4 linked regions of the Homo sapiens genome follow. The protein of the gene in region 4 interacts with the protein of the main gene of each other region in a pairwise test. Each region holds a gene or a part of one and is shown on either strand. Other genes may lie near its edges. The genes, in order: ZFHX3, TNRC6C, CSTF2 and CNOT2.

Region 1 (6,847 bases), on a different chromosome or scaffold from region 4:
GTGGAAGAAAAAAAGCTCCTACCCCTGAAAGATACACCAAAAAGGAACAACTGCACACAGTGACAATAAGGACATGTTTCCTGGATGCTAGAACTAAGCCACATCACCACTAGCCCTAGAAATACTTTTCCAGCAGTCTGTAATCACAGATTTATTCTAATGAACTAACCACTTTTGGGTCACCAAAGATGAGCCAGGCCGGTCCTGGGAGTGTCTAGCAAGCATCATTTAAAGTCATAATGATGAAAACTAAATCTCGCTTATTTTAGCTCCTTGCCACTGGGCTGTCCAATTGGCACTGAGTTGACACAGCAGTTAAATTCAACCTCAAAGCAGCAAGAAGGCAGGCACTTCACTGTCCTGGTGGGAAGAGCCAGGCAGGGGCCTGTGGAGGGCACCGTTTTAGATGGGCCTTTCCAACCCTCCCTTAACATTCATTTGTGCAAACAAAAAATGGAAGAAAAGGAACCAAAATTAAGTTTCAGGTGGTTGGGGAAGCAGCATGGATTTACATTATTATTATTATTATTATTATTATTATTATTATTATTATTATTGAATAGTTAGCAAGTGTTTCTCAATAGTTCCCTGTTCATCAACACTGTTTTCAGGAGAAATGGAAAACAGTAGCTCTATTTCATAGAAAGTACAGCCATTTCAAAAAAAAAAAAAAAAGTGGGGGGGGGTTGTTGAGAGAGGGAAGTGACCCATGTCATAAAGACAGAAGGTCTCCAAGTCACTTAATTCCTTGTGATTCTGAAAGGGCTGTTTTTAAAGTCTAAAAGTGCTCGCTTCTGCATCTGCTCCATGTTGTTAAATAACACTTGTGTAATTAAATAAAAGAGCCAACTGTGACCCCAGCCCACTCTGAGAGGCACTTTACATGCTTTCTGAAAACTATGCTGGAAACACCATGAGGAGAACTCCTTAGTCCTGTAATTTAGCAAAGGGAGAGAGAAAAAGTTTCTTTTGGCCATCATAGCTACACACTCTCTGAAAGGGTGCCTGCAGGGTCTCTGCAAAACAGAATGAACACAAATACAGGCGTGCAAACATCCAGGTATGTACCTCTCTGTGAAGACCCCATTCTTGAAACCCTTCAATTATTTGGAACCGTGGTCTCCTGACTTCCCTCACACCTCACTTTTGCCTTCATTGTTTTTCATGTTTGAGTAGCAAGAGGGATTCAGAATCTCAGGCTGCCAGTGGCTGTTCTGATAACAAGGAGCAGACTCATGTTTCTTGCTACGGCCTTTCTTGATCAGGTTACCTTGGAAGGTGTATGTTTTCCTACCCAATGCAGTCCCCACCACAGCACTCTCGTGTCCTCCTCCAGCCCAGCCTCCTGGAACTCGTGATTTTCAGGGTTTCCCTTGAAACCTATCCAGAAACCACAGCCATTAACTGAACGTGAAGATTTGACACCTCCTGAATTCAGGAATGAGGGAACTCGAGGGGCCAACTCTACAAACTCGCACCTGCTGCTTGACGGCAAGGAAACAGAGTTTCCCCAGCTAGGGTGAGCTTTAAATTATACACTATTTATTTAGTGACTTGTCTCCAAGGATCTCAAAGCATAGAGAGAAATAAGATGATGTGTAACTTTCTCACAATCTACCTTCAAGGCTTTGCCCTGGTGCATTCTGACAAGCAGGACCCAGTATGAAGGAGAGGCCTTCCTTCTGTGCCCAGGCAGAGCCATCTGTTCTCTCTGGGGTTTTCTGTCAGTGGCTTTAGGGAGTCTTCAAGGACTGTTAAATGACACAGAGGGTGGGGGGAGGGATGACCCTCCTGGATTCACCTGCTCACGGCTTTCACTTAAGCCAGTTTAACACAGGAGGTACCACTGTGCCACGCAATTCCCTCTTAGCACACACCATGCGTGAGCTGCAGTCTTTGCCCTCCAGGCCTTTTCCTATCATAACACAGGTGTGTCCAAGGCAGAAAAGAACATTTTCCAGAAGGTTCGTTTCCCTCCAAGCCTACAATGCTTCTTTTTGTTGTTATTGTTTTTCTGCTACTGACCTAAACATAGGCATTCCTCCTCCTAACAGGATAAAAATCTTGACTCTCTCCTTTGCATCAGCTCCCCACCCCGCCCCTGCCCAAGGAAATAAATGCTCTGACTTTTCCAAGAGTGCGAAAAAACTAAAATTAGAGGGTGGACAAGATGATCTCCAAAGGTGCCCTCCAGCTCCAAAACTCTGATTCTCCCTTTAATTACTCCACAAGCGCATTCTTCACATTGTTTCGAACTGACCAGCGACTTCTCCAGGGCTGAAAAGGGTGCATTTTTAGGCGGAGGCACCCAAACTTCTAAATGACACCAGTACCACAAGTATTCAGAAGGCAGGAACTAATCCAAAAGCAGACTCAGGAAAGGAGGAGGGAGGGGAGGACAGAGGGAAGGGAAGGAAGGAGGAAGGAAGAGCTTTACTGTGTGCCCAGCAGAATTTAGGCGCTCTCACCCTAGGTAGGTGGCAACTGGAGTCTGGGAGTTCAAGTGCATCCAGCCTGCCCTTCCCCCACACGCCCCAAGAGAATGGGAAGTTCAGCCAAGACTCGCAGCACCTGCCCGCGGCTCCAGGCCGGCTGCGCGGACCCGGAGGGAGGCTGCACTCACCTGGCACACCAAGCCTCCGCGCACCTCCGGAGGGAGGCGGCACTTGCAGGTCCGGGGGCCGCGCCGCCATGCGCAACAACGGGAAATTCCAGTGGCACCCGAGCCCCGAGCTCACCCACCCCAGGCGGCATGCTCCCCACCTCCCGCTGGCCCCAGGACTCGGAGGTGGCTCTGGTCAGGAGCAGGGGGCCCGGAGACAGGGGAGGGGAGCTCATGGTGGCGGCAGGGCTGGCGGTCGGCCCGTCCCCGGAGGGAGGTCCCCGGGACGCGGCGGGGATTCACCCACGGGGCGCGGCGCTGGCGTCCGGGTCCCCGGCCTGCCCGCCGCCGCCGCCTCCTCCTCTGCCGCCGCCCGCCCGGAATCGCTTTATGTAAATGAAGCCCAACTCGCAGTTTGCAGCGCGCACCGCCCGGGGAAGGGGGGCGGGCGGGGCGGGGGGCCTTCGGGGATCCACATTACACAGCAACAAAGCGGAAGGTTAATTTGAAACTCACAGCCCCGCTGCCGCTCGGCTCCCCGGGCAAAGCCTGACATCTACAGTCGTGCCGGGCGCAGGCCGGGTTGCTCGGCGGCGACCGCGCCCGCCCGCCCGCAGGGACCCGGGGACGCACAGGGACGCGCGGGACCCGGGCGCTCAGCTGCGCTCGCTCCGCTTGGGGCGCGGGCCTTGGGGCAGGCCGGGGGTCCCGCGCACCCGCCTGGGGCCAGGAACCCTCGCCGCTCGGCCTGCGCCGCCCCGGGAACCGGCCCCGGCGGGAACAAAGCCCAGGCCCTCCCGGAGGCGCTGACCCCTCGCTCATCAAAGGTCAGGGGCCGGCCTAGAATCGGGCGAGAAGAAAGGGACGCGCCCTCGGCCACTAAAAGGAGCCTGAGGCCTCCGAACCGGAGCCATCGCTCCCTGGGCCCCGTCCACGTCACAGCCAGGCCACTCAAGCATGGGGACAGGAGCCAATGTGGACAGGAATTTATTGGAAACACACACCCATCCTATTAACTGCTTTACAGAGCACTTCTGTTTTTCAGTTGCAGAAACTTATAAAAACATCCCCCTGCTCTCCGTTGAGAGTTTAAGGATAGTTTTTGAGGCCAGAGAAAGAGAAAAGGAGAGATCACTAGAAAGATAGGAAGAAAAGAAGTGGGAAGAAAAGGAGATGCAGTCTACCATGTAAGCCTCCAGGCTCCTTAGCCTCACCTTATAAAGCCACATCACCGCAGAGATAGCAAAGATCGTGCCCTTTCCCAGGGAGTTCCTACCGCCAGGGTAAGATTTAAAGCGGCCACCCCAGTTGGTCAAAGTGATTGCTGGGCGCCTTTCTATCTCCCCAAGTTCACCTTTTCCAGTTGGTCAAAGCGATTGCTGGGCGCCTTCTATCTCCCCAAGTCCACCTTTTTCCATTCTCATCTGAAAGCCAGCCCCAAAGAAATCTCACCGGAAGTCCTCTGTCCTCCCTGTCAGAATCCCACCCTCAGTCTGAATTTACTCCCGATTCTCACAGCACAGAAAGGCACCTGCTTTTACCCTTTCTGAAAACCACCCACCCAGGCTGGCCTTACAGCCTGGAGAGTCTTTTCCTCGGGCACAATAATGAACCATGCAAGTGTTAGAAATATAATCAGCTCATGAGGCGAAGAGCAGTATGTATGGAATTGTATTAGCATGAGGCACACACTGACTCGGGAGAAAAAGGGATGCTTAGCTGGTGAAAACCATCACATCCCCGTATAGAAGGCTTTTTGCACAATGTAAGTTGGGTTCAGATTAATGTAAGTATCTAACCTGTTGGGTACAGACAGCCCCTTTCTACATTTTAGTCCAGAATAGATTCTGGGGAAATTTATTTATTTATTTATTTATTTCAGCTAAGGCCCTGGGAGAAAAGACTGCCTCCAGGGAATCATGTCCGATTAGGGACAAAGGAGGGCACAAGCCCAATTCAGTCACACGTGAGAGCACGGGGGCCGGGTGGGGGGAGTTAAGAGCCAACAGGGAAGGTGGAGGATGAGTTTGCAAACCAGACTATGGTCACTGCAGAGCTGCTTCCAGACCACCTGACTTCAGGCCCAAGAACAGGTGGTGTTTTCAAAACACACTGTTATTTATATTGGCCATATAAGTTGAGAACACCTTAAAGAAAACAATTAATAATTTAATTGAAAAAGTGACTATGAATAAGACATGAAGATGACGTATGCTAGCAGGACCGCAAGCAACGTGGCCCACAACGCAGAGATGCCTCTGGCAATCTCTCCGGAAAAACGAAGATTCCTTACCTGGGATAGGTAAGGCCTGCTGGATAAATTAAAGACAACAAGAAAATGTTGATACTCTCAGAAAATCTAATTTTGCTGCTTTATCTTCATTTTTATTAACAGGGGACAACCTCGTAATCTGGTGACATCATGATCCTGGTAGGCCCACAGACAAATACCTTCAATAAAATAAAAGCTAGAAAGCCCAAAGAACAAGCTATTAAAGTAACCTGGGAGGATGCAGCACTGCCTGGGCAGAAGGCCCGGACGGGATCTGCCCTAATACTGCCACTGTCCCAAGAGGCAGACCCTGCAACCTGCCTCCTGCACTTGAGAGGCCTGACAAGTAGAACTGAGAGTGACCCTGAGTTCCTTTTCTTTATCTGGCACCAGCTACACACATGATGAGGCCTAGTCAAGCCTGCCTTTGTTCCAGGCAAAAATTTAACAGGTAATCCACAGGCAGGTGATCTATGGCCTCTGTACATTATGGAAATGAGGGACTACACACAAGCTGGGTGTCACCTCTACTAAAACTCATTTTCCTTATTCATAAAAACAATACCTCTTCAGAGGGAATTGGCAACTTCTGCACTTACATATGAAATCAGGAGTTCCTCTGAAATACTCCTTGCAAATTCTATCCTCCAGCTCTGGAAGCCCTGGCTCTTCGGAGGGCAGCTGCCTGATGTTAAACCCATGGCCTACCCAGCAGTGACAGCCTGACATTCTCATCGCTCCATCCTGAACACTGCTGACAAATAAACCCACTCTCAGAAAAGGCAATTCTTCCCTCGCAGTTCTCCATACCCAGTCTCGTCTCATCTGGAAAGCGTAATTGGCAACAGCCGAAAGGATAAATATTTAAAAATAAATCAGGGAGCGCTAACCCCTTCCCTACTCCTCCCCTTACCCACTCTCCAAGCCAGAGGCCTGCCCCCTAACGCTGAGCTGGCTGGTAAATTACAATGATTCTACCGAGCCAAACCTGCTTGTCTCTCTCTTTCTCTACACATACACACTTACTAATGCTGTATCCTTCCACTTTTGCAAAGGTAAATATGATCTCTAAGATACAGTGGATGTCAGCATTCTGACTTCCAGCGTAACCTGGGCTCTCTTTTCACAGTACAGCGGGTTTAGACAGATTTGTGCACCCTTCCGGGTTCTTCTATTTTTATTAAATTATACGTATACATTGATTTTTAAAACTAGTGCTTAAATAACCCGGAGGCTTTAACAAAGAAAAATCCAGAAGAGGGCAAGAAACAAAAACAAACGTTCCTGAAATAAACAAGGAACCATTTGGAGCTGAATTGGCCTGAGTTCACCCCATGATTTTGAGGCAGTTATATTTAGGGGCCTGGTACCCGCTGGGTGGCCGAGCCCTCCTGGGTATGGAACAGAATGCAGAAGTTCCTCAGAACAGCTCACATTTGCCTTCATAACCATTGGAAGCTGGTGTGCCAAGGCCTGCACACAGATGTTTTGATTCACATTTTTCTGCTGAAGCCTCAAGGCCTCCATCCATCCCTACAGTGCTAATTCCATAGATTAATTTTTACCCCCAAATCGTAGGTGGAACATTATCTAATTTCCTTACCCACCCTCCCCAGCTCAGGTGCTAAATCTGTCAATGATATCCCACAACAAAGATACAAATGAGTAACCATTTTTTAAAAGCTGTGATTTCGGAGAGTTTTTCTAAATTAATTTTAAGTTACAAAGCCCCAAGTTTTAAGAAAGCCAAAATACAGAAGTTGCCTTAAAACAGCTTTACATGTTAGGTAAAGAGCTCTCTCTCTCTTTCTCGCTCCTTCTTTTTTAAACAAAAATATTATTTCTGAAAGGGCAAAGGGAATTTGCCATGCAAGACTTTTAAACACAGGGGGATTCTTACATTTGTGTTTCTAAACCTTGAAATTGAGAATTTTAATGAAAAGGCGGACAGATGCTTAAGGACAGCATCGCAA
Region 2 (7,028 bases), on a different chromosome or scaffold from region 4:
TCTGAAGACTTAAGATCTACCCAATCAAAATTCTGCCATCCAAGGCTAAATAGGCATGTGCATAAGCTATTTAAATAACTACATCTCGGGCCGGGCACGGTGGCTCACGCCTGTAATCCCAGCACTTTGGGAGGCCGAGGTGGGCGGATCACCTGAGGTCAGGAGATAAGAGACCATCCTGGCCAACATGGTGAAACCCTGTCTCTACTAAAAATACAAAAATTAGCTGGGTGTGGTGGCGGGCGCCTGTAGTCCCAGTTACTTGGGAGGCTGAGGCAGAAGAGTCGCTTGAACCCGGGAGGCGGAGGTTGCAGTGAGCTGACATCACGCTACCGCACTCTAGTCTGGGCGACAGAACAAGACTACGTCTCAAACAACAACAACAACCCACTACATCTCAGCCAGGCGCGGTGGCTGACGCCTGTAATCCCAGTGCTTTGGGAGGCCGAGGTGGGCGAATCACGAGGTCAGGAGTTTGAGACCAGCCTGGCCAACATGGTGAAACCCCATCTCTGCTAAAAATACAAAAAATTAGCTGGGCGTGGTGGCAGGCACCTGTAATCCCGCCTACTCAGGAGGCTGAGGGAGGAGAATCGCTTGAACCTGAGAGGCAGAGGTTGCAGTAGCTGAGACCATGCCACAGCACTCCAGCCTGGGCAACAGAGCGAGGCTCTGTCTCAAAATAAGAATAAGAATAAGAATAATAAGAATAATAACTACATCTCAAATTTTTATAAAGTAACCTTTAAAGGAGTACTGAAATTATGAGTAAACATAAATTGATTTCAAGAAAAAGAATACTGACAATCTCTTTTTAAAAATCCTCTTATTTCCAGAGAGTTTTCCCTAAAGGAGGGCGGGATATAAGTCTATCCAGAATAATGCTAACCAGACATTCTGGCTTGGCCAGAATAATCTCATTAGTCATAACACTCATTTTTCCAATGGGCTAGTATCTAAAGACCATCATCAAATCTGTGAAAGACAAGCCAGGAATTACCTTGTAATTGATCTATCATACCTACAATTTTGTTGTGCATGAGAAGCGTCACACATTGTTTTTTCATGATTGGGTCAGTGGCACTTATTGGCAGTGCCCAGAGGCCTCAGGAAAAGGAACTAGCCACTCCTTCAGGTACCCTACAGAAAACAGTAGTGCAGGGAGCCCCTATGATGACTGTTCCTCACCTGTCAGCTTCCCAATTCCCCTCAAATCTGCAGATACAGCCCCACGTACCAGGCTTACTAGTTGAAAACACAGTTGATCGTTATTCTAAAAGATTAAAAACCGAAGAAACATGTTCAATTATCAATCTTCTCTCCCCCCCCGCATGACTTGTGGAAGCAATATCTCTGAAGAAACAGATGATTGTTATCTAAATATCTTCAAAATACTATAGACGATGTAGGGATTACAAAGATGAACATGTTATTATCCCTGCTAATAAGTAACTCAAATCTTAAGAAATTATCATGATAATGAAGTTTTTTTTGCAAAGCATTAATCTGCAAGGAAATGTGCTGAAATTTAAAGTCTAAAGTTGATAGAAAAGAATAAATAACAATGCTCAATTAAATGCCACACTACATATACACAAAAGTCCAACAGTGGCTAAGATCCTCATTCATCACCTGACTGATAAAATAAAAAATATTTTTATCTGTTTTAAAGTTTCCCCACTCTACAGGAGTAAAAAAGAATCTATTATTCCTTAAGTTTAAGGAATCTCTTAAGTTTACCTAAAATTTAAAAATTCTAGTAACTTCAACACAATTACTAATGCTGCTATTCTATTTATGTAATGATTTGATCTTATGCTTCCTTGAAACATTAAAGATTTTTGTTTTCTCTTCTTTCCTGTCAACATTCCATATGCATAAAATTTACTATATACCTGGGACTGTTATATAAGATCTAGGTCAAGAATTTTTTTATGGGTATGGCCCTAAGAAAATCTGATTTCATTGAGAGTATCCACCATAATTAACAGCAGACGTCTATTATTACATGGCTCATCACATACTTGGATTTATGCTGTGAGTCAAATCTCTACTGCAGAACACAACCTCATACAATAAACTCGCCTAAAACTACTATCTTGTGTGTCATCTTTCCCCATCAGCATCTAAAAAGAATGTACTATGTGTATTTAACCAAATATCTTAATATTAGCTTCATTAATTTAAAGCCTCTGTGGCAGATTCTAGGAAGAGCAGTAAGTACCCTATGCCTCTTAGAACTCATTCTTTCCAACAACCCACGTCAATCATTTTGTATTATTTTATCCTGCTGATTCTTTGTAACAGCTTTTCAGTTTGACCCTACCAGTATGTAGGCATCACCTTGCACAGACAGCTACAACAGCCAGTTTTAACACCATACCTCTGCTCAAGGAAGATTCTAATCCAACACCTGATTCATGTCATGCCCACCAACAGCCACCAACGGTTCCTAAGGAGCCAACAACTAGAGGTTCCACCTGATAGAGCCCCTTCTAAACCTTATTGCCAACACAGAACCTCCATTTACAGCTAGGCCTCTGCACTCATCCAGTCAATAACTATATCCCGTCCCTACTATGTCTCAGCCATTATGTTACGCGCTTTACAAAATATTTCCAAACATGGCTTGCCCATTCGTCTCCTTGTAGAATATCCCTTTCATCCAACCAAGCTTTGCCAGCCTTTCAGAACTCATTTCAAGTGAAGTCTTGCCTAACCACTGCAGCCCACAGGCCCTCTCTGGGGATGACCAGGCACTCTTCCTTTCTGAATTTGTTAAAGTCAGTCCCACTGAACTAAAAAGTGGTATGAAGGGAAAACAATGTTCAATGGCCACATAAGTTTGGGAAATACTGGGCCAATAAAGGTAAACATATTTCTTTCACTGCTGGAGTTCTCAGAGCATCCAAAATTTTGACATGCGTCCTTAAGAGAGGAGATCCAGTATACAGCTATATAATGATCTATTACCTTAGGTTTTTGTCAACTTTTTAATATGTGTATGTGGCGTTCTTCACATGTATTGCTTTCTCTCTTTTTTTAACAACTTGTTTGGTGCCCATTTCTCTCACTATACTAGTAAGACAGCTCCAGGAGGGCAGGAAGAAGTTGATGTCCTTCCCCTGTGGCCGCTGCACAGGGAAGACATAAAGGTTTTGTGGAAGGAATGATGTAATCAGGCTCAGGCTTCAGAAGGCAGCACAGCGGAATGATAAAGAGCTCAAGCTCTGGCTTCCAAGGACCTAGACACATTTATTAAGGCTCTGATTTGGGGCAAATTATTCAACTTCCATCAGTTTCAGCTTCCATGTATAAAGTGAATATAATCACAGCTCCTAACTTATAAGCTGCTGAGGAGAAATGAATGAGATCATACACACAAAGTGCTCAGAAGGCAGTCAGTTAATATTGGCAGCTGGATAGCAGGACACAGAACAGAGGAAGAGACTCATTAAGCAGCTATTAAAATAATCCAAGCTTTTTCCATATGTGAGGGCTTTGAAGTGTATTGAGTTTAAATTCTGGCTTCATCTCCTATAAGCTATAGGATCTTGTGGAAATTACTCCCTTTGCTCATCTGTAAAATGGGAATGTTAAAAGCAACCACTTCACAGGAGTGTTGTGAGGATTAAATAAGATAAACTCATGTCCTTGGCACATAATCACATTGTAAATGCTCAGATTAGTTTTAAATGGAGATCTGGTTACCTAAGGATGCTTTCTAACCTCGTCCACTCCCACTTCACAATTCCCAATTGTCCTCAGTGACTCAAATGTACTTGTTCCCACAAATCCATCACCTTCTTCCCTTACTGTGCCTCCCTACCAAAAAAGACCTTGTTTAAGACATCAGCCATAGCCCCCTGAAGAACAAAGCCTATTAAATTCCCTCCCTACACTCTGGGCCCCTCACTCTGCACTTCATATTTCATATGGAGTATGAGAAAAAATACTTGTGCATCTCCCTCCTCCCCACTGTAATTTCTGAATAACCGTTGTCCACATCATCTCAACAACAGTTGGAAAGGTGACACCTGTGCCCGCGTTGCCATTTCCCAGTTTCAGATCTTAGTTTAATTCCCAGTTGCTATTTTCACTGAGATTTTCCCTGCTTCCTAAAAGAGTAATTAAAAAGAAATGATCTTTGGGAATAAAAAAGTAAACAATATCTTTGCCAGGCTCAAACCAAGCACTTGATTTTAGCTGTGAGAGATCTTATTCTTAATAAGCTAGAAGGCACACATAAAATGAATCAAACAAAGCACATATTCCCAATAACCACCTGGGCACCAACTTGCATCTGGTATTAGCCACGTCAAAAGACAGTCTGCACATTAGTAAAGGACTCAACCACAGACAAGAGTTATCCAACTGCTGAGAATAATTCAACTTGACACTGTGATACTATAGGTTTGTAGTTCAATCCTTCAGAGAAGGAAGTTATAAAGATACAATAGAGTATTAATTTCTAAAATGGTCTGAAGAAGAAAAACAGAGAGGGTCTTCAGAGTAAACCATTTGGATTTATACAAATAGATGCCAGTCACACTCTTCTTCATTTTTGTGCAAAAAAATTAAAAATTTGTTATGCCAAAAAGGTTCATGAGAAAGTGGAAACTGGGCCAAATTAGACCAATCCATCCCACAAAATATCTGGAAGATTCCAGATGACTCTTTGGGCCATGTGCACTGTGTGTGGCCCAGTGATCATATGGGTCTTAGGGCAGTGGTTCTCCAACAGAAAAGAAGTATTGCAACAAAGAGGCAAATAAAGAGGAAGATGGTGGGACAGACAACTCTTATTTCCTAGACACCCCTTATTTCCTAGAGCAAACATTTAAATCCACTGGCTTACAAGAGGAATATACTTAAGAAGCTATATTATTGCTCATCCTTAATCACTACTATATTTTAGAAAACCAAAGTTCCAATGCATAGCTGGAACTCAGAGAGACACAGAGAATATTAAGAGTTCAAAATAACATTGAGTGTTCCTTTCCCAAGACCATTACTTCTGTTGTGGTTTGCAGCCACAGAGGGCTCAGGAGAGTGCGAACAACTATCTGTGCTACAGCAGTGATGTTTTATGGCTGGATGCCCAGATTGTCTAGCTCTGCACACAGCTCTATAGTCTTTTGAAGGCTACAGAGGAGGAATGCATTCTTAACAAACAGCTCTCCATTCCTGCAATAGCTTCTTCATTCTCTGAAAACATCTAAAGCTAAGAAAAGAATTCATTTTTAGTAAAACTCCAAAAATGGAACAAACGATATGGATTTTCAGCATGTTTTAAACATGTAAAACCTTGTTATATATATCCCAGGTGGAGATTTTTTAAAATTACATAATTTACTTTTCATTAAATAAATTAACATTTCAAATGCACGATCTGTACAATAGGAAACTGTACCATTATTTTAATCGGGTTATTCAAACAAGTTCACTGGCTAAGATTATACATTTCTCAGTTTCAATTTCAGATATACACTTTCTGCACAAGGTTATATAGTTATTTCTGACAAGTAACCTTTACATTTTTAAGTAATTATATTCCTAAAAAGTTATGTATAAGCTGAAAATTTATAAATGGACTCCACTGCATTAAAGTCTATTTAAAGAAAGCTTATTGTATATCATTTTATAAAGAATGCTCTCCTCGTGACCACACAATTATTTAAAAACTCATTTGTATAAATTTGGATAGCCATAGACTGAGTAAAAGCAAGAAAACCTGTACAATCTACCCCCTACAAAATAGGAGCCACTTCTCACCTGATATTTTGCTGTCCCTACTCAAATCTATGACATCTTCAAACAAAATATTAAGATGTTAACTATCTAAAGTAACTAAAATCCAGTCACCTTCACTGGGACCAGTTGTCATGCAAGAGAGACCAAAGACTGTGTCACCAACACTTCAAAATATTTCCTTACTTCTCACCTAAAATATTTGAAGACCCTCTGAGATAGAGCTGGAGAAAAGGTAAAAACCCATGTCTTAAAATTATGAGAAAGAAGCCAAAACAAGTTCAACGGAAGATAACAAAAACAAAACAAACATAAAGTTACCTGGTTCTTCCCAGCTTATATAGACCCTTTCACGCTCAGTCTGTTCAGGACTCCGCCTCCTGCTCCCTCAACCTATCCTTCTGCCAGCTCCAAGGACGTCTATAAATCTGTTCCTGTCTCCTCCTCTCCATTTCTTGTGCCTTCTCCACCAGCTTCAGTTGCTCTTGGTAATCTTTGCTTGCTCTATCCCCAAATCTTAATTGTCCCATGTGTTTTACTTTGGTATACGGGACAGCCTAGAGTTCACAGCCAAACGATTTTCTTTCTTATAAAATCTTAAGTATCACCTTTGCACAATAAACCCTGACTGAAAGATAAACAGTCATCCAAAGCATAAGCATGCAATCGAATGCTCCAATTCCTATTGGGGAAGGCCAAAAAGACCCCCAAATAGTCTTTTAAATGGTTTTTCAATCTTAAAAGGTTGTTGGTGAACTTCTACGATGCCAAAGATATTCTATATACTCAAATCAAACAATTAACTTTCATCAGTAGTCTTTTTTAAAAAATGTCAAGTTAGCATCACTTTCCTGGGCCAAGCAAGACTAAGTTACAATCAAGACCTCATCCCCTTCAATTGGGGTTGGAGAGGTAATGTAAATACCTCATTCCCAGCCAGCACTGCAGGAACTGTGTCTTCCATTTCTTTCCAAACTGGAAACTCCCTTCATTAAGGAGAAAGGTTGTCCTACTCCAGCCCTGACCCTCCTCTGGCTTGGTTTTGGAAGTAAGCCAGATGACAGCATTTGGAAAAGCACAAATGTATCTCAGGAAAGCCAGCTGTTTAACAAAAAGGTGGCGGTAGCGGTGATGAAAAATACTGTATTTAGTTTCATATATCCTCTGTATGACTTAGTTATTTTTTAATCACCGAATGTCAAACGAAACAGTTCATTCCACTCTACCTTCACAATCAGCATTCTAAAGGCAACTATTTACTCCAAAGTTCCTAAGCC
Region 3 (7,028 bases), on a different chromosome or scaffold from region 4:
AAAACATAAAAGAAACTGCACTGAATCTGGAAGGCAAGATTCATTCTGAAACGGCCATAACTGAAGTACGGCAATTCTATTTTTGTCACATTTTAAAGCACAAAAATTTCTGCTGTCAAAAATGTATCAGATGGGGAAATGCAGTGAATGAACTTTACATGATGAAAGAGAATATCACTCCACAAGAAATACTCTGCCACAGCAAGTCTTTGATAATAAACATCATGACAACAGCAAACAAAGACTAATGAGATGACATGGGAACCGACACTAAACAAACATGGCAGGGAAGCAAGAAGTATCTTCTCAAACATCTCCATCTCCTTTCAGCATTAAAAGCAGCATGGATTTCAGGAAAAGTAAGACAAACTAGGCACACACGAAAAGACTCTTGCTTCCTCTGCTGGGTACTGAAGGAAACTATAAAAGAAAGCTCATCTCACTTAGTCTCTGCATGAAGACATCCTGGAAATACCCTCAAAACATGAGTCACTTCCCTTTGCCAATTTCTGACAAAAAGGTGAAGATAACTATAATAGGAAGATGTCTTGTGCAAGTATGCGTTAAACAGCTAAAACCTGATGGATTGAGGGCTGGCCCCATGACAGGCAGAAGTATGACTGAAACCCTAATACCTTCTCATTACTGCAGAAATACTCTGGGGAACATATATGATCTATTGACAGTGGTGCGGTGGGGATAGAGGGATGTACAATAGCACAAAAGCATTGGATGCTTAGAGAAAATATGAGATATTTGGCCAGGGAGTTTGTCCTGCTGTCAGACTTCTAACAAGAAAAAGTTAATTCTGTCACTTCAGCAACCAACCCCAGTGTAAAAACCACAGGCTTGTATATTAATGTTTATGTATGTATGTGTGTATATATATGTGTGTGTGTGTGTATATATATATATTCTTTGAGACAGGGTCTTGCTCTGTTGCCCAGGCTGGAGTGCAGTGGTGCCCGATTATGGCTCACTGCAGTCTCAACCTGTTGGGCTCAAGTGATCCTTCCACTTCGGCCTCCCAAGTAGCTGGGACCACAAGTGCACACCACCATTGCCCAACTAGTTTTTGTATTTTTTATAGAGACGGGGTTTTGCCATGTTGTCTAGGCTAGTTTCAAACCTCTGAGCTCAAGCAATCCACCCACCTCAGCCTCCCAAAGTGCTGGGATTACAGGCATGAGCCACTGCGCCTGGCCAATATTTTGCTTTTTAAATGGGTTCCACTTATAAACCATATGCTACAAAAGAAAAAACCTTAAGCTTCTCTATGCTTGTCCAAAGCAGTCTTTCCCATCATTTTATTCCCAAGGAATAAGAGTAGAAGACACTGAAGAATATGCTTGGAAGTTAACAGAGGCAGTGTGGAGTGACAGAAAGAGGACAGATTCTGGAGTCAAAGACTTCTGAATCTTAGCTCTGCCACTTACTAGTTGGAAGAGAAAATAAGAGCACCAAATCCAGTCCACATTACTCATACATTAATATTTACTTACCTTGTCCCCTTGAGAAAGTAACTTATTCTGAGCTTCCAACTCTTTGCCTGTAAAACTGAGGTGCTGCCACCTAACTCACAAGATTATTTATGAAAATTAAAGTGCCTGGCATATAGTATGCACTCAGTTCCTTCTCTTTTCTTACGATCTCTCCTCCTAACATTGTTTCCAACTGAACCACTGCACTTTCTTGTCCTTCAAACTCCAGTAACATGAAGAAACAACATGGAGATTTTGGAGCAGCAGCTACTGTTGTATATAGCAGTACAGCCACGGTACAACATATGTTCATTAAGTAGGCGTTACAGACCTATGATTCCCTCCCAGTTTTCTCTGGGGTTTAAATCTAGTCTTCTACATACCCAGCCACATATTTACATGCTCATTATTAAAATTCCTTACTCAGTCAACAGATATCCATACAGGGAGAGAGAACATGTCAGTGGAATTATTAGACTAGGAATCAGGAAACAAACGATCCACTTGCTTCATTATCAATTCTTGTAGAGCTGGACTCTGAATCACCAGGTGGAAAGTCTAGACCAGCACTGTCCAATAGATCTTTTTACGATGATAGAAATGTTCTATATCTGTAATGTCCTGTATGGTATCCACTAGTCACCTGTGGCCACTGAGCACTTGGAATGTGGCTATTGTGACTGAGGAACTGAGTTTTAAATTTTACTTAATTTTAATTAACTTAATATTGAAATAGCCATGGGTGGTTAGTGGCTGCCATATTAGATACTGTGGATGTGGAACACTTCCATGACCAATTAACATTAGTCAGACATTAATATTTATTTACCTTGCCCCCGTTCCATGGACACTGGTCCACTTCCTGGCATTCCAACCTGAGCCTGCATTCCTCCTAGAAGATAAAGGGCAGACAAGAAAAAACACCAATTAGAACAGCGGAAAAGAAAAATTAGAACAGTGGCTGAGTTTACAAATTTCCTCATTCTGCTCCACAAGCAGAAACCTACAAAGGAAGATATTCAACAATGCAATGAGAGAGAAGATGGGGTTTGTTAGTATATTTACAATTTGTACTTTATGTTTCAGTGACAGAATAGTGAGTTCAATAAGAATAATTCATTTCATTGGTTACCAAACTCTTGGCAGGAAGCTCTTCTATAATACAGGAAAACAATGTCACTTACCCATGGACCTCCTGTCATGAAAGATAATTTAAATACAAGTATAACTCTATTAGGATAAAGTAGATACATAACAATCCTAAAGTAGATACAAAAAATTCCTGAGTTTGCAGAAATTTCTTCAAAAAATCTCTTCTTCCATTCCTCATCAACTTAGCTCTGCAGACTGGATTCTCTACAGAACAGAACAATTTAGAATTAAATCATTCTCCATGAGTAGTGTTGTACTCAACCTACCCTAGATTAGATAAATTAACAAAAACCAAGTTTGTTACATAAAAAAACTTTAAATATTGGTAATACATCATGTGTTCATACAGATGTTTCATATGGGGAATCATTATTTCACTCAATCTTCTTAGTTACAATTGTTGAACAAGGAACAGTTACAAGTATATGAGCAATACTCTTATTAATTGCCGATCTATACATTTTCAATAAATGTACATAGCTTTTAAATTTCTCTTTTTCCCTTTTGTTGTTTGTTCTGATTATGTTTGTTAAAATACAATTTTATGTCAGTTTAATATGCTATAACAAATGTGACCTTGTATTTTTTTGTCTGTTTTCTTCATGAGCTTTTGAACCTAATCTGACAGTTCATTCATATTTAGCAGAGTAACAACTACATTAGTTTTTATTCCTTCCATCTTACTCTACATTTATTATTACTTATTTTACACTGTCTCTTACTTTTTTCCTCTTCTCTATTTTTGCTGGCTTGATTTTGTTTCCACTCATTCCATTTTCCCCCTTGTTAACTTGGAAGTTTTACTATGCTCTTTCACTTTACTGTCCCTTTCCCTGTTCTTATAATTAGACATACAGGATTTAACGTAAGAAATCTACTATTTCCTCCACCTAAGATATATACTTTCTAGCTGTGTATTAATTTTACCTAAGGATCCCATTATCATATTTGGCTGCACTGCAACAGTGGCTATGACAAAACTTTAGCAAGTACTGAAATGGTGAAGACTAAATGAAACTTACCTCCAGGAGCTAAGGAACCAGGGCCAGGTCCTGTGACAGCAGCTGGCATTTGCCCTGGTGCTGGAACTCCACCCTGCATAGAAGCTTGCATCAGAGGAGGTGCGCCATTGACATGCATTCCACCCTGACCAAGCAAAAAAAACAGAGTATGTATATGCCTCTGTGGATACTCAATATACTAAGTCTACGACCTTAAAAGTCCTCTTCAAATGAACAGCCCCAAATACACTACTAAACATCCTTTTTGTATGGCATGTCTTATGCAGCATTAGATTTGTCACACACTTTAAACTCCACAGAAGCAATATACGTCATGAGCCTGGTTATATGGAACACGGTTAAGATGGAACATATTCTCAATGTAGAGATTGACAAGTCTTATCTGTGTGGCAAGGCAGCACATAACACCTACTGTTAACTTCATGATTGGGGCTGCCAATAAGAGTAAAAAAAAAAAAAAAAAAAAGCCCTAAACCCAAGAAACATAAAAGGAGACTGGGACTCTTTTAAAAAAAACAACTGCTGGTAGTCCACATTTTTAAAATTAAATTTTTTTTTTAATTTAACCAATCTTTTCTCACTCCTGTCCTTAGATATAATTCTGGTTTTGGGGGAATGTGAAATATATTTTTTTAAATGCTACATTAAAACTCGTTGAGAAAAAGAGAATGTCATCTTTTCATCTGTGCATTCCCCAAAAAACTGAGTAGTCCCTTGAATTAGAAACAGCTCAATAAATAAAGAATAAAAGCCAAGTTATATAAAAAAAATCACATATACGTTTAAGGAACACAAAACTCTACAAAAGAAAAGGAAGAGCTGTATAGGAAAGTAGTTAAGAGAAAACTGGCTGTGAGGTCAGATAAAACCAGGTTCAGAAATAGATCTGCCACTTATAATTGTGTCAATTTTTGGACCAGCTAACCTCTCTGGGCCTTAGCTTTTTTTTTCTATCTCTGAAAATGTATTTATTTATTTAGAGCAGGGGTTGGCAAACTATGACCCATGGGCCAAATCGGGCTCACTGCCTGGTTTTATAAACAAACTTTTAACGGAACACAACCACACACACTTGTTCACTTATTGCCTATGGCTGATTTCATACTACCATGGCAGAGTAGCTGTGGCAGATCCTGTGACTTGCAAAGCCAAAAATATTTACTGTCTGATCATTTACAGAAAAATGTTTGCTGGTCCCTGCCCTGTACCTCTGCCAACCTGAGAGATGAAAAATGGTAGCTTATTGTAGTTTCTATTTACATTATCTTATAACATTACATATATAAATGATAATTTATTACATTATCTTATTTTGAAGTTGAATAAATTTTTATATATTTATATTTCTCCTTTTGTGAAATATTTATGTCTATTTCCCATTTTTCTACTGGGTTATTGGAAATTTTCTTACTAATTTATAGGAGGCCTTTTAAAATTTATTATGAAAAATTACAGATATACAAATCATATAGAAAATAAAATAGCCACCCAGCTTAGGAAATAAATAAGTAAATAAAATAAACCAATGGCCTGTACGGTCTTCCCCAATTGCATCCTGTGCTCTCTTCTCCTTTGATGACCACTAAGACGTCTTCTTAATGTTTCAAAATTTTATATGAATCATTACATACTCAATATATTATTTTGCAACTCATTCCACATATTTTGGGGATTTATGCAGAAACATATATCCTACATTTCGGGAATGCATCCATATTCACTTAGTTTCATGTCCGTATGTCACTGTTTTGGAGTTGTGTTGATATTATGTATCCTAGTTCATCTTAACTGCTGTATGGAATTATGTTTTTCAAAGTCATTCATGTTGATACGTGTAGTTTATTTAACTGTTGTACAGTATTTCACTGGATGAATGTACCACACATTTTCTCCATTCTTCCACTGACGTACATTTAGGACATTTCCAATTTTTCACTCTAAGGCAATAAACATTCTTGTGAATGACTATGGGCTCTTTATTAGTCTGTTTTCCATCACATGTGTGGTAAATACTTTTTCTCAATTTGTCATGTCTTTGATACTTATTTTTTTCTTTATATAGAAATTTTTTAGTTTTCAAATGTATCAATTTTTTATGGCTTTAAGGTTTTGTGTCATGCTTTGAAAGCAAGCTTTACTTTTTTCATCAGTAAGAATGGAGATAATAAGAGTGCCAACCTCATACAATTGCTTTGAGGATTAAATGAGATAATGCATATGGAATAACGAAGTGCCAACCACAGTGCCAGGCATGCACATACACACAAAGTTAGCTTATAAGAAAAGGGCATACGGGAAGGATCTCTTTGTTTTACAAACTTGGAATCGAATCTATATTCATTCAGATGTCATGTGCTCTGCAACCTGGAAATTGCTTTTATGCCTGGAAATTGAAATTATCATCTCTGGTTCCTGACCATTCTTCTTTCAATATATTCTCCTAAAAAGAAAATGACATTCTAAGACAGATACAAAAAAATGTTAAGGGATAAAGCCCTACCAAAGACTGGGCCTGAGGGGCCTGAGGATTCTGCTGGTTCATTGACACATTGGATCCTGAGCCAGGCCCAGCACCATGGACTGGCTGAGGGTTGCCTGCAATCAGCGTTGGGATATTTGTCTGGCGATGCAGAATTTTCTAAAAAGTGAAAAGACAAACCTATGAGCTGTCTGTTTAACAAAGCAATCAGGTAGTTCCTATCCCATTCAAGGTTTACCCGACCATTTCCATAAAAGAACCAGAAGCACTCACCAGGGCAATTTCCGGATCCACAATTCTCATCACTACCTGTGCTTGCAGCAAAGCATAAGCCAGTTGAGGGTTCTGAAGTAACATGTTCCGTGCCTCCTGGGGACTATTCTGGACACAGAGCTGAGAAGATAAGCAGATTCAGGTTTAATACTTATGACTTAGAAACTGATAGTGATTTAGAGCCATTCCCCTCTGAGAAATGTAATATTCAAGAGGCTCTTTATCATTAGTTTTTGCATGGCACAAAAAAACCTTGGTCATGGCAGGCAAGAGAAGAAAGAGGCATTTCAAATACTGTGATATTATCATTTAGGAAAAAAGCCAAATTTTAATATCTACATCTGACATCTATGGGCCACAAAACTCCAGCTGGATTGTTTGGATAGCTGTGTTTGTGTACAAAAATAGAAAGCTCTTTGTACAAAATGTAAAATATACTGTGTACATACAGAATATTGAAGGTGCAAGAAATGGTGGTCTACAGACAATTTCTATTTGAGCTCAGGGAACTAATTCAAGTAACTCCTTGAAAACCTGATGTGATTTGCTTTATTCATAACCTAATGCCTCCTCCCACCTTCATTTGTTTCATCAGCTCAAACATCTGCTCTGGTGGAAGGC
Region 4 (7,028 bases):
ACTTCCAGGATTTTTGCAATTTTTGCTCTAAATAAAGGAAATGGCATGGGAACCAACAACAGTAAATACCTACTTGTCAGGAGTTTTACAGGGTCATATTTAAACCTACTAAATACACTTAAGGGAAGAAAATATTTTATTAATTTTAAGGAAGAAAACAGGCACAGAAGAAAAAACTACTACAGGTAACTAACTCTGCACTATTCAGGTTGAAAAAGGTAGACACCAGTCTGTCTGAATCCTAACCCATTAGATTTATCCCACTTAACACAGGAATTATTAAATGCCTATTATGTGCCCTGTGCTTTGCCAAGTACTACAGACAGAGCAATATGACGATTTATTTATGTTACTCAAAATATTACACATCTTACTTCACAGAAGGTCATCTAAACAAAATTCCTGGTAGGAAAAACATGTTTAGACTCTAAGAGCAAGACTGCATTCTTGTTTACATTTACGAATCTGATACAAAAAAGAGTATAGTGCACTCTATGAAATAAATTGTGGCTAATTCTTGTATACCCCAGAAGCTCCTCTTTAACCTAACAAGTCCCACTCCAAAACGAACACGAACAAAAAACCCACAAAAAACTTTAATCCTTACATCAGTTCTACTGGGTAAGTATTGTTATTTATCTACATTTTTCTTTGTTTTTATTTATTTATTTTTATCTACATTTTTCAAATGAGAAAACTGAAGTATAGGGAGAATAAGTCACCTAGCCAATTGAAAACAGTACAACGGTGATTCCATTTCAGGCTGGTTAGTTCCAGGCATTATGAACATCATGTAAAATTTCAGAATATAACTCTCTTTAATAGCAGATAGATCAGCTCCATTTTACTCAGTCAAAAGTGAACTAAATAGACAATCAGGCTACGTGGGCAGCTCTAAATGCCATAGTTGAACCATTAACTTTTGTTATGATAAAATAGTATATAATGCATACAATAAAAGCAATAATTTAGGCCAGTAATCCCAGCACTTTGGGAAGATGAGGCAGGCAGATGGCTTGAGCGCAGGAGTTCAAGACCACCCTGGGCAACATGGAGGAACCCTGTCTCTACAAAAGATACAAAAATTTGCCGGGCATGGTGGCATGCGCCTGTAGTCCCAGCTACTCAGGAGGCTTAGGTGGGAGGATTGATTAAGCCCAGGAGGTCAAGGCTGCAGTGCACCGTGATCATGATACTGCATTCCAGCCTGGGTGACAAAGTGAGACCTGTCTCAAAAAAAGAAATAAATAAATAAAAATAAAAATAACTTGCTGAAACTACATTCTCAGAGAAGCAATTCTTTCTCTTTAAAAACATTAATTTAGGATTTGTTTCTGCATGTCAATTAACAGATAATGCTAGCAACCTAATATATCCAAGTGTTATATATTTTGAGAAACACACAAACACATATCATAGCATTGTAAAATAAGCACTTCTAGTAACATAACATAAATATCAGCACCTATGTAGGGATTTTATCACTGATTTAGATTTTCTTGGTATTATTTCAATTTATCCAAGAATGTTAAATCTCATGCCTAACACATTACATCAGATGATAATACTCAAACTTTGCCTGCCCCAAAACGTATACAAAAATTCCACCCCAGTAACGGAAAAATCTTGAACAGTTGGCATTCATTTACATATATAACAAGTTCTCTAAAAGATAGACTACAGAGTTTCAAAGTCATACAGTTCTTAACAAATAAAAATCCTGCTTATATGAATGCAAAGTACTCAATTTGTTTAATGGAGAGAAAATAATCTTTCAAAAATGTCATAAACATACACCATTAAGCTTATAATTTTAATTGTAAATCGACTGTGGAATCTAAACTTTCCCCTGAAACACGAATCTGCTTATCAATCTCACTGGCTTTTTTTTCCCCTCCTAATGGTTAATGGTTCCCTCATCACATAAAAGATAAGACCTCATACTGTGGCTACTTCATTCCTTCAACTAACTTCTCCTATGAGGTCCCAGAATTCCATCAAGGGCTATGGAGGATTACCTCACCATTCTCCAAATCTAGAACATTTTCCTAGGATTTGTGCATTTACAATGCTGATTCCCTACCCTCCCCCACCTAGTTAACTACAAATCACCCTTCAGAACCCAGAGCTCACTTATCACCTCCTTGAAGCCAACTCATTAACTCCCTGAAACAAAGTTACTCTACTCTAGGATGTTTCTACAGTATGACAAAAATTTAACTTGAGGAATTACGCAGTGCAACTATAATAGTGCACAGCACAAAGTAACATTTATTGGACTGTACAAGAAAATCTAATTAAATATGAAACTTATTACTAATTTCTAAGAAAAGTATAGGTTTTATTATTCTACATAAACACATGAATTAAGGAAAGTTTTCAGTTTGCTTTCCTATGTCATTTTCCAGTACTCCAGACAGACCACCCCTCAACCCCTGCAATTCATCTGATGTAGAAAACAATTTCAAGGCACCTTAATAAAAAATAATCCCTCCTTCCTATTGCTCTTTGTAAAACCTATTACAGATTACTGGGTCCACCACAATATTTTCTGAAGTGAAAGACACAGATCATTATGCTTTAATCACCTCTTCTCCCCTTTAGAGCTTACCCCCATTTATGCAGAAAGCACTAAGTAATTGTTTATGAAATTTCTTATCTTCAAACATACAAAACTTGACCCTATCTCAGGGCCTTCTATTACTTCTGCCTGGAAAACCATTCAACCACATTTCTGCATGGCTTACTCCTTTCTGCTCAACTGATACCTCCACAGAAGTCTTCTCTCATCACCCTACTTAATCTTTTTTCCATTTCTAATCAATTGCTGTACCTTTATCCCCCTTTATTTTTTCCTAAGTTACCATTACCTGAAATTATGTTTATTTATTTGTTTACTGTCTGTCTCCTCCTCCAGAATGTTACATTAATGAAGGTGGAGACTTGTCTGGATCACCGTCATATATCCAATAACAATGTCAAGCAGAGACTAAACACTCATATTACTAAAGGATTTACTTGAAAACATCTAGAGTGCTAACATATAACCAGCAGAGCCTCAACTTTAAATTTAATAAACAATTTCTATCCAAATACTACTAAAAAGCAGCTAAATTATATGAATTTTGCATGTGCAGGGAATAGAAAAAGAACTTTTAAAATACACAGAATTTTACTGTTGGAAGTGACTTTGGTGATCGAGCACAGGGATTTTCAAACTATGCTCTGAAACATCTTAGTGTTTCACTTATTTGTGCTTCACAAATTCATTTAAGCATTGGATTACAATTTTTTTACACACATCCATCCATTTTAGGATGAGTCATATACACACACAAGTGCATTGTATACCAAACTTAAACACTTTAAAGACTATCTCAGATGTCAGGTTAACCGGTTTGCTGTAGCAAATAGTTTGGCCTGACATAAATATACCTAGAATTTCTCATAAGCAAGCATAGATTAGAAAGATTATGGCTCCAATTTTTTTTCTAATTTCAGGCCAGACATGTTCATTCCCATAAAAACTACACCCCTAAAGCATTACTTTGTGCAGTAATCTGTTCGGCATATGATTACCTCAGAATAATGGTGCAATAATATGTAAAGTGTAGCATCAATGATATGTTATTACCTATTCTCATTATAACACAGTATTTGCTTTTAAGTTTTTAACGTTTCTCAGTGAATGTTTCTAATTTTTAAAAATATGAGCAGCTGTTGGATATTGTCAGAAAAGTCAAGCTTGAAACAAAAATTTCCTACTGCTGCTTGTCTTTCAAACTTCTGCATCAATTTGATTAAATATCCAGGATCTGCAAGATGATCAGATGCAAACAAAAACAAGTCTTCCATTAACATCTATTTGATTTAATAAATCACGATTTTCTCTATAAAGTAGCGCTAAAATAAATGAGAAAGAAATTAGACTCTGAGTCCAGTCTGAAGATGAAAACGGCCTTCATAATTCCCAACTTCTAATTTTCTTATTGACCAAAATAGCTTGTTTATAAACATAAATGCTAAGTTTTAAACTTATTTTAATATATATAAAATTAAGATAATGTATATAAAAGTCCTCTCTGCAAGCTGTAAAACATTTTAAAAATATTAAGTAGCAAAGCCAAAAGTAGTCAGGTGCTTGGAATGGCATAGTAAACTTAATATTTTATTTTACTGACCTATGAAAGATTCTTACAAGCAGAAAACTAAATACAAAATTTGTATGCAGGATAGGCATTATAATTTACAATGTAGAAAGTAATACAAAAGCACATTCTTGCCAGATATGACACAAAACCAAATGCTCCTCTCTCAAACACATTGTATTACATAATCAGTCATTACATTTTGTCCAGATGCTAATACAAACTGGAGCTGTTTCAACATCTGAATACACAAATGGAAAAATAGTATATCAATATGTTTGAAAAACAAGCAAGTCTACTCACTGTTACCTAAATTGCCAGGATACATAATTTTCCCTCACTCATTTTATCATTAGTTTTTACTAAGTTTTAGTAAAAACTTACTAAATGTGCATTTTCATCTACTCACGTATAAGGAAAGACATTTCCATTCAGAAAAGGCAGAGAAAGGACTGGTGTCCTGAGTACTGGATCATACTCCCTTTTTAAAAATATACACTCTGTATCTTTGGCAGCTCTTAGTCACTAAAAGGTCTCTGGAACATATACAGGCAATTAAGACATAATATTCCTAAAATCATTATCAATATTAGCATATCTACTAAAATGCAATTCTGAGAGTCATCTATCCTGTTTTGATTTCTACATCTCTAAAATGGGCAGAAAATTGGCTCACAATCTCTTAAACAAACCTATAAAGGCCAGATGTTTCTCAAAACACAGTTTCAGATTTGAGAAAGGTAAAATGTTGTATGTATCATATATGATGTAACATCTGCCAATGGCAACACCTGCAGTCAAACACGTGAACATTTCCATATGAAAATGTAGGAAAATCAGATTAAGAAAGATAATAATAATCAAATTCACAGGTATAATTCCAGTTGATATTTTCTCACCTTGCTTATTCAAAACAAAACAAAAGAAATGATCAACTTTCAGAGCTTTTTAAATTTTGGACCTCCAATAAGACACATCTCACCTTATTTCCATAAGGGCAATTTTATTCAAACTAGAGAAATCCTGCTTTCTACTAACCAATGGGCCAGGCATTAGGAGGAAAAAGGTGAGAAAAACAGAATCTATCTTCAGAAGCCCCAAATCTAATATGAGCTCATGGGTAAGTACTGGTAAACATGATACCTTGTAAAGACAAATACAAAATATCTCCTTCACATAATAGCCATAACCATACAAAATACAGCGAGAAATGCAAGAAATACAGATCTAAACATCCTGCCAGAAGCAAAACAGGGTATTAATCACTCTATTACTAACATCCTTCCCTAATTCCATACTAACTTTACACACACTTCCCTAAGAAGCTAGTTATCTATTTTTCCATATGTAATTAAGAAGCAAAACTGTAAGAAAGGATTCAAGGAAGTGAAGGAATACAGGAAGCTATTCTCCCCACCACTTTTCCAATCTGTTGCTTCAGATCTGTGGATTGTGAAACAGCACTGTCAAATGACAATCTAGCAACAGTTCAGTTTAATAGATACGTATTGAGAACCTATTAAGTATTATGCACTATAGAGGCATTCAAAACATAAACATAAACAAGTCAAGGCCATACCTCTCAGGTGCTCCCAGTCCAGATGGACAGTAAATTACAATACAGTGTGACATTCTATAATAGAAGTTTGAAGAGTAAAAAGCAATACAGCAAAGGATTTGGGGAGTCAGGAAAGATTTATGAAGAAAGTGATACCAAAGAGGAGTATGGAAGAAGTTCATCAAACAACAGAGAAGTGAAAGATACATAAAATATGCACTACCACCTGCCCCCCACACACATACATGCAATAACATACACATGAATAAAAAGAATAGGACGGGCGTGGTGGCTCATGCCTGTAATCCCAGCACTTTGGGAGGGTGAGGCAGGCGGATCGTCTGAGGTCAGGAGTTTGAGACATGCCTGACCAACATGGTGAAACCCTGTCTCTACTGAAAATACAAAATTAGCTGGGTGCATGCCTGTAATCCCAGCTACTCAGGAGGCTGAGGCAGGAGAACCGCTTGAACCCGGGAGGCGGAGGTGGTAGCGAGCCAAGATCACGCCATTGCACTCCAGCCTCAGCGACGAGCAAAACTTCGTCTCAAAGAAAAAAAAAAAAGAATAAGGAAAAGAAAATGTGCAGGGTTAAGTGGCAAATAGTCCAAAATATCTAACTATATATCTAAGTGGACTTAGATCCTGAGTCTACGCATATACAAAACCCTGAAGTGCCCAGAAAAGGAAAAATTTCCCATTTTTTCCTAAATAATTCACTTTTTTGTATTTCCATATTATATGTCATAAGCTCTTGACAAAAAGCAAACATTGTAAACTGTTTTATTACTTTATAATGCAGCACACCCCCAAGGGATATACCAACAGATACCAACAGATTTGCATCTGTATTTCAGAGAACAAGCTCTCAGAAAACACAGTACAAATTCTATTTCCAGGACATTCCTAATAGTATAGACAAAGAAAATAAATGAACAAACCACATCAGCATGATTAGTCATAAGAGTTGAATTCTAAAATAGAAATCAAAGGATGTCAAACAGAAAAACCAAAGAAATAAAAACCTAACTTTCATTCCACTTCAAGGCAAACTTTCTACAATGACATCAACTTTAGCACAGCTCTTTTCAAAATATCTGATATAAGTCACAGTGAAATTCAATCCCTTTAAGTATCACAGGTAGAAACTGCTCTTAGTAAGGAAGAACAGTCACCTGTATCATCAAGCAGAATAAGTTCTACCATAGCACTAGATCTCTTGATTAACACTGTATGTAATTCCACTCAAACATTACAGTACACCTCATATTAACTCTGCCCCTAAACTGCCCTACCTGGTACCCTGGATATTCTGCCTCTTT

The links.
Region 1: the proteins of CNOT2 (region 4) and ZFHX3 interact in binary tests that used the Homo sapiens proteins (3 or more experiments, as listed by UniProt).
Region 2: the proteins of CNOT2 (region 4) and TNRC6C interact in binary tests that used the Homo sapiens proteins (3 or more experiments, as listed by UniProt).
Region 3: the proteins of CNOT2 (region 4) and CSTF2 interact in binary tests that used the Homo sapiens proteins (3 or more experiments, as listed by UniProt).

The regions. Positions count from the first base shown.
Region 1 is NC_000016.10:73,045,129-73,051,975, forward strand, and holds the start of ZFHX3 (zinc finger homeobox protein 3), read right to left. Parts: upstream 3,001-6,847; 5' UTR 2,694-3,000; coding exon of another isoform or gene 2,624-2,693; exon of another isoform or gene 2,450-2,623; intron 1-2,449.
Region 2 is NC_000017.11:77,961,703-77,968,730, reverse strand, and holds part of TNRC6C (trinucleotide repeat-containing gene 6C protein), read right to left. Parts: intron 1-7,028. UniProt on the Homo sapiens protein: Plays a role in RNA-mediated gene silencing by micro-RNAs (miRNAs). Required for miRNA-dependent translational repression of complementary mRNAs by argonaute family proteins.
Region 3 is NC_000023.11:100,823,385-100,830,412, reverse strand, and holds part of CSTF2 (cleavage stimulation factor subunit 2), read right to left. Parts: coding exon 6,985-7,028; intron 6,528-6,984; coding exon 6,408-6,527; intron 6,294-6,407; coding exon 6,156-6,293; intron 3,780-6,155; coding exon 3,656-3,779; intron 2,374-3,655; coding exon 2,311-2,373; intron 1-2,310. UniProt on the Homo sapiens protein: One of the multiple factors required for polyadenylation and 3'-end cleavage of mammalian pre-mRNAs. This subunit is directly involved in the binding to pre-mRNAs.
Region 4 is NC_000012.12:70,246,411-70,253,438, reverse strand, and holds part of CNOT2 (CCR4-NOT transcription complex subunit 2), read right to left. Parts: intron 1-7,028. UniProt on the Homo sapiens protein: Component of the CCR4-NOT complex which is one of the major cellular mRNA deadenylases and is linked to various cellular processes including bulk mRNA degradation, miRNA-mediated repression, translational repression during translational initiation and general transcription regulation.